Linked DNA regions of Homo sapiens: region 1 is linked to region 2. A link means that fine-mapping ties the variant in region 2 to the expression of a gene that starts in the linked region. Tissue or cell type: whole blood. Region 2 holds a variant in brackets; the other region holds the start of a gene. All regions are shown on one strand. Distances are between the middles of the regions.

Region 1 (2,909 bases), 34 kb before region 2:
TTTTAACACACTACATCATTGACTTATTTATTTTAGTTTTTATTGGATCTGTCCTCCCACCAGAATGTCAGTTTCACAAGGTTAGGGATCTTTGCTTCGGTAGCTGATGTATCCTGAGTCCATAGAACAGCGCCTGCACACAGTAAGTGCCCAGCCCTGGTGATGATTTTAAAGACAAGAAAAGGCAATTATAAAAGTTAGTGACCGGCCCAAGGTTTAGATGAAGTAAATGGAACTTGTGTAAGGTAACTTGAAGAACTCTGCTTACTCATGTGAACACTACCCAAGGAAGGTTTAGTACCCCAGTACTGAGGAACTAAAGATGGTGGTGGTAAGGGAGTGGGGAGGGGCATCAGTGTTTGAGTTCAACCACCACACGTTTCTTCATTTTTAAGTTCTGTCTAGCCATTATACACACATTTGTCTGCACTATAACTGGACTTCTGCACTGTTGATAGTCCTAAGTTTCCTTCAAAGCTTGGCATCCGTGTGGCTTATTTGGTAGAGATTTGAACTTTCAAAGGGACGATACCCATCATTGGGGATTTCTCTCAAACCCTGGCGGTTTAAAAACCTACTTGGGCACTGCTGCTCAGCCAGCCCGAGGACCAGGGAGGCAAGCACAGAAATAGAAAGCATTTGTAAGTGTTAGTAGCTACTTTAAAGAGTAACTCTGTTCTGTTAGACCTACTAATAACAAATTAGGAGCTTGCATTTAGCACATCTTTTTTTAAAAAAAAAACACGTTCATTTTTCTCCTATGTTATAGTGTTTTACCTGAGAGGCTGAATATACTAAGACAATGGCCAAATCTAATATAAAAATAGACCTCCAATCCACAACCTGCAGCAACCTGCCCAGAAAACCAGTCAGTTACCTACAATAACCAACCCAGGGAGCCTGCCTGCTCTAAATCAGACTTGCACTCCTCTGCCTGCCTTTTTTCTTCTCATTCGGATGGTCTTCATCTATTCCCACATACCTGGGGTGGGGAGGAAATTAGCAAAAGCAAAACCCGGGTCCTGCACGCAGGCAGCTTAAGTACGGCCCTAGGGCTCGGGTCTTCCCTAGGCAAGAACCTCGAGGGCCGGACACGGGAGTGCAACCCAGGCACGCGCCTTCGGATGGCCAGAGTAAATGGTCGCGAGATTTTGCGGGGTAGCAAGGGGCCGGGTGCCCACGGCGGGAGAAACTACACTACTCTGGAGGCGAGCCTAGCCCTTCATCCCGTCGGGTTTCACAAACGAAGCCAGAGCTTCCTGGAGTGAGGGTGGAGCTTCCTGCCCGCGCCCTCTGCGCATGCGCCCGCCCGGCGCCCGCCCGGCGACCTGGAGTTGATGTCACGTCCGGCGGCGGCGGCAGCGGCAGCGGCAGCGGCGCTGAGTTTTGTCTCCCGGGCCGTCTGGGCGCGCGCGGGTGTCCCAGGTACCCCGCCGCCTCCCTCCTTCCCGCAGGACTCGTCCCTCCTGGCCCTGGGCCCCAACGGTGCCCGCCTGCCCGGCGGTCGGTCAGCGCACAGGGCACGGCTTCCTCTGCTTCTCCCGGACCACTTAGTCTCAACCCGGGTGTGTTTGCACTACTAGAGGTGAAGCATCCATCATAGAGAGAATGGGACCTGGGGTCTTGGACCAGGGTGTTTTTACTTTTCCCATCAGGTGGACGCGCATGGGCAGGAGATATTATTTGCAGCATTTCCTCCTAGAGGACGCCTTTGTCATTGTAGTGCAATCTAAGAATGGGTGTCCTTAGACAACAGGGACCGACCAAATCGTCATGCAGCTGTTTGGATGCTTTAAAAAAATAAATCCCCACACTCATTACGCGTTTTATGCTGCTGACTTTTTTATTTTTAAGACATCTGCTCCCGAAAGCTCAGAGCCCTTTAGCATTTCATTTTCTAAACGAATCCTAATCTTTCCTGTGACTGAATCGGTTCAGAGGATATCTTTTCAATAAGGAAGGAAGCCCTCCCCTGCTCACTGGGGACGTCGCAGGGTTTTTAAACCTAAAGATTTACTCTTTTGTGCACAGACGCTGGAAGCATTTGGGTGAGGCAGTGCAGTGCTTTTTGGGAAATGCATCAGATCTTTTCTGTTCTTGAAACGCCAAATCTAACTTGGTCTTTTTTTGGATGAATTACCGCCAGTATTATGAAGGTTACTGTGAAGGAACTTGAGACCACTGAACTTTTTGAGTTCTTGCGGTAGATTTTAAATCGTTTTTCCGTCTTCAACTCTGACTTTGGGATCACTGTCAATTGGCTACATTCTTTACCCTCTTCTAGTTATAATTTAATGCGATTTATTTGTTGTGGGTTTTGAATTTCGATAGCTACACTTAATAGAATTGTGTTTAAAAGAAAGATAAGTGAGGAACTCGTGGCTTTTTACTTTTATATAACTTAATTTTTCATTTTACAAAATGCCCATTTAAAAAAAAGTAGCTAAGCAAAAGAAAGGAAATTAAAATCATCTAGAATCCTACTATCTAAAGATAACCATTGCTAACATTTTGGAATAGAGTGTTAAGTTTTAAAATACATGAAATTTGTAAAAAACAAAAAATGAAATCATAGTGTATACTGTTTGAGTATAATTTGCTTGACGTATCTTGCCTGGCTTCCATTTCACTTATTTTTTTTCTTTGCGCATTTATAATAGCTACAGAATGTTCTATTGTGCTAGGCACTCATAGGTATAGTGGGAAACCTAGTGCATAAACCTTGTGCCATCTATTTTATCAGCTCAGAGAACTTTTAACTTATATCTTGGTTTTTAGCCAAGATGCATAGGTGAGATAGTTGCAGAACTGAGTTAAAGGAAAAATTTAATATTGGGTCCTATGCAAGGGTACATCATATTGAAAAGGTGGAGAACATCATTGAAAATTATTCTAATTCTTGACTCTTT
Region 2 (2,909 bases):
AGAAAGAGGGGATTTGTCCTGCCTGCTTTGGGGCTGTCATCACCAAGTCAGTGAGATGGAATTGAGGAAAACCCAAGGTGGCTCAGCTGCCACAGGGGCTCCTGCCATGATTGCGTGGATGCTGACGAGCGGGCTGGGGGCATGGGGGAGTGGGGCTCGCCCAGGTGACAGCTCATATTCTAATGGTGGCTTGGAAAATGTCCCCACCACCCCAGCGACAACGCAGCACACAGTCTGAACAAAGCCAGCCTCTTGCCAGATGGCATTTTTGCTATTTTAACCCCAGGGCCTTGCAGAGCCGGTACGCTGGGGCTTCAGTGAGGCGGCCAAGGCCTTCCAGGAGGCTCAGGTGTTGAGCCATAAAGCCCCAGATGTGCTTCATGCATGACGGCCTCGGTCGCACAGTGGCAGGCCTGCCACACTGCGGGGACTGGCCACAGGGTTGCTGCGTGAGACCAAAGCCTTTACTCTGATGCCGTCCCTGGTCAGGACTGTCTGAGATAAGAAGTTCAATCCATGTGTGAAGTGTTTTTTTACCTGTGTAGCTGAAGACTGGCTTGTCCTCTTCTGGGTGGGGGCTCTGAATGGACCCCAGGACCATGGACCCCAGGGACCCCCCTGCCACACTGGACAAGGTGTCAGTGACCACTCCAGGTTGGTGATTGGTGATTAAGGAACAGACAGCATTTTCCTCCCTCCCTCTACCATTTCTCTTTCTCGTTTTTGTTTTGTTTTGTTTTGTTGATTAAAGGTAGAACAGCAATGGTATCTCCACATAGGAAACACCAAGCCTTTGTGACCACATGAGCCGCAGCGTCTTCATCATGGATGAGGAGGGGAACCAGTTCTGGAATTCTGGCTCAGGGTAGATGCATCTTAACGGAAGAAGAATTAGTCAATTCTGTTTCCGTGGTTTACTCTTCCTGTCTCCTGCAGATGAATTCATTAGTTTAATTAATGAGAGCCCTTTGCCTTCCTCTGCAGTGTTGCCCATGGAAATAGTGGATGATCATGGCTCCCTATTATGAAATGTGGAGAGCATTATTTGATTAGGAGCAGAACCCTTTTCCCCCCCAGAAAATAGCCTCTAGGTAAGGGACTGGACGCTCACACACGATGAAGTGTCTGGTGTTCTTCTCTCTCATTAGGTAGCATGCCCTTCTCTTCCTGCCTTTGCAACAGCTCTAGGTAGGACCCACACTGTACAAGTGCCTCATTCGTGACTTCTGCTTCCCTTGCAGGAAGGCATAAATGTTGGCTGACTGTCAAATGCTTGTGGGAGGTCCCCACGGAGTGGAGAAGCGGGAGACTCAGCTTAATCACAGACAAAGTTGTGCATGAGAGGTGAGAGGGAGGAGCTGGAAGCC[G/A]GGGCTTGGAGGCAGTCCATGATCTTTCCGTCTGTGATCCTCAGTGTCAGAAAACTATGTAATCACTCAAGACAGGCAAATGGGATAACTGGATGGATGCTGAGGAAGTGTGAACTCAAGAAGGTAGAGGGAAAGCCACGACACGTCAGCGTAGCAGGGAGGTTAAGGGCATTGCCTTAGAGTCAGGCAGACCTGGGTTTGGAAGCCCCTCCGCCACTTACCATCTGTGTGACTTTGCCCACGTTGTTGTTTGGGGACCTGAGTTTCCTCATCGGTGACCAAGGTGTCGTAAGGGTTAAAGAAAATGGTGCATGAAGATGGCCTAACAGAGTGCCTGGGGTACGGTAAGTGTTTACTGTGTGGGAGCTGTTAGTGGTGCTGTTGGTAGGGATCAAGTGACCAGGTAGCCAGAGTTAGAAATCAGGGCCGCCACCTGCCAGGTGTCAGAAGAGACAGCTATTTGTTCATACTTTTTTTTTCTTTGTATGCTTCTCATTGAGTTCCAAGGTTGCCTACATGAGACCTCTCTTGGACTCCTTTCAGGAAAGCTTAGTTGCTCAGTGCCCGAGGGCCCTTGTTAAACCCTGATTGTCCCTGAGGTGGTCACCACAACATGGCCACATCAATAGCATCCCTCACAGGACTCCCAGGTCACACGCACCAGAAGGGTCTGCTTGGGAAGCCTGAGCAGAGTGATGTAGCAGGGGACAGGAGGTGAGGCTGGCGGAAGTGAGCAAGGGCCACACTGTCACTACGGATGCCACACTGCAGAGTGGGGCTTGATGGGTAAGACAGTGGAGGCAGGTACCAAGAGGGAGGGTGGGGTGAGCCCATCTGAGTTGGGAGACATGACTCTCATGGCAGGACTGGATGCTGAGGCCACAGGCAGAAAGATCATGGCTGCCGTCATCCAGGTGGGAGAACCTTTTTCAAAAATTAGTATATCTGTATTTTATTTTATTATTTATTTATGTTTCAATAGCTTTTGGGGTACAAGTGGCTTTTTATTATTTTTTGGAGACAGAGTTTTGCTCTTGTTGCCCAGGCTGGAGTGCAGTGGCACGATCTCAGCTCACTGTAACCTCTCCCTCCCGGGTTCAAGTGATTCTCCTGCCTCAGCCTCCCAAGTAGCTGGGATTACAGGCACCCACCACCACACACAGCTAATTTTTTCTATTTTTAGTAGAGATGGGGTTTCACCATGTTGGCGAAGCTGGTCTCGAACTCCTGACCTCAGGTGAGCCACCTGCCTCGGCCTCCCAAAGTGTTGGGATTACAGGTGTGAGCCACTGTGTCCGGCCTCACAAGTGACTTTTTGTTACATGGATAAAATATATAGTAGTTTATTCTGAGATGTTAGTGCTCCCATCACCTGAGTAGTGTACATTGTACCTAATGTGTAATTTTTCATTCCTACCCTCCTCCCACCCTCCCCCTTCTGAGTCCCCAAAGTCCATTATCTCATTTTTAGGCCTTTGTGTCCTCATAGCTTAGCTCCCACTTATGAGTGAGAACATACGATACTTGGTTTTCCACTCCTGT

Evidence for each region.
Region 1: TBC1D7 starts here. The variant in region 2 is fine-mapped to the expression of TBC1D7 in whole blood (TOPMed, PIP above 0.99).

Annotation. Positions count from the first base shown.
Region 1 is chr6:13,326,972-13,329,880 of GRCh38, reverse strand. It overlaps TBC1D7 (TBC1 domain family member 7), which reads left to right and starts at 1,344. Exons shown (of 8, transcript NM_016495.6): 1 at 1,344-1,585. TBC1D7-LOC100130357 (TBC1D7-LOC100130357 readthrough) reads left to right here and starts at 1,344. Exons shown (of 9, transcript NM_001318809.2): 1 at 1,344-1,425. LOC124901261 (a long non-coding RNA gene) reads right to left here and starts at 1,266. Exons shown (of 2, transcript XR_007059457.1): 1 at 983-1,266; 2 at 24-156. RefSeq lists an enhancer at 999-1,505 and a silencer at 1,139-1,528.
Region 2 is chr6:13,293,231-13,296,139 of GRCh38, reverse strand. All of the region lies in intron 8 of TBC1D7-LOC100130357 (TBC1D7-LOC100130357 readthrough), which reads left to right. LOC100130357 (a long non-coding RNA gene) reads left to right here and starts at 554. Exons shown (of 5, transcript NR_160971.1): 1 at 554-654; 2 at 752-865; 3 at 1,242-1,344. The variant G/A (reference allele first, on the strand shown) is at 1,368.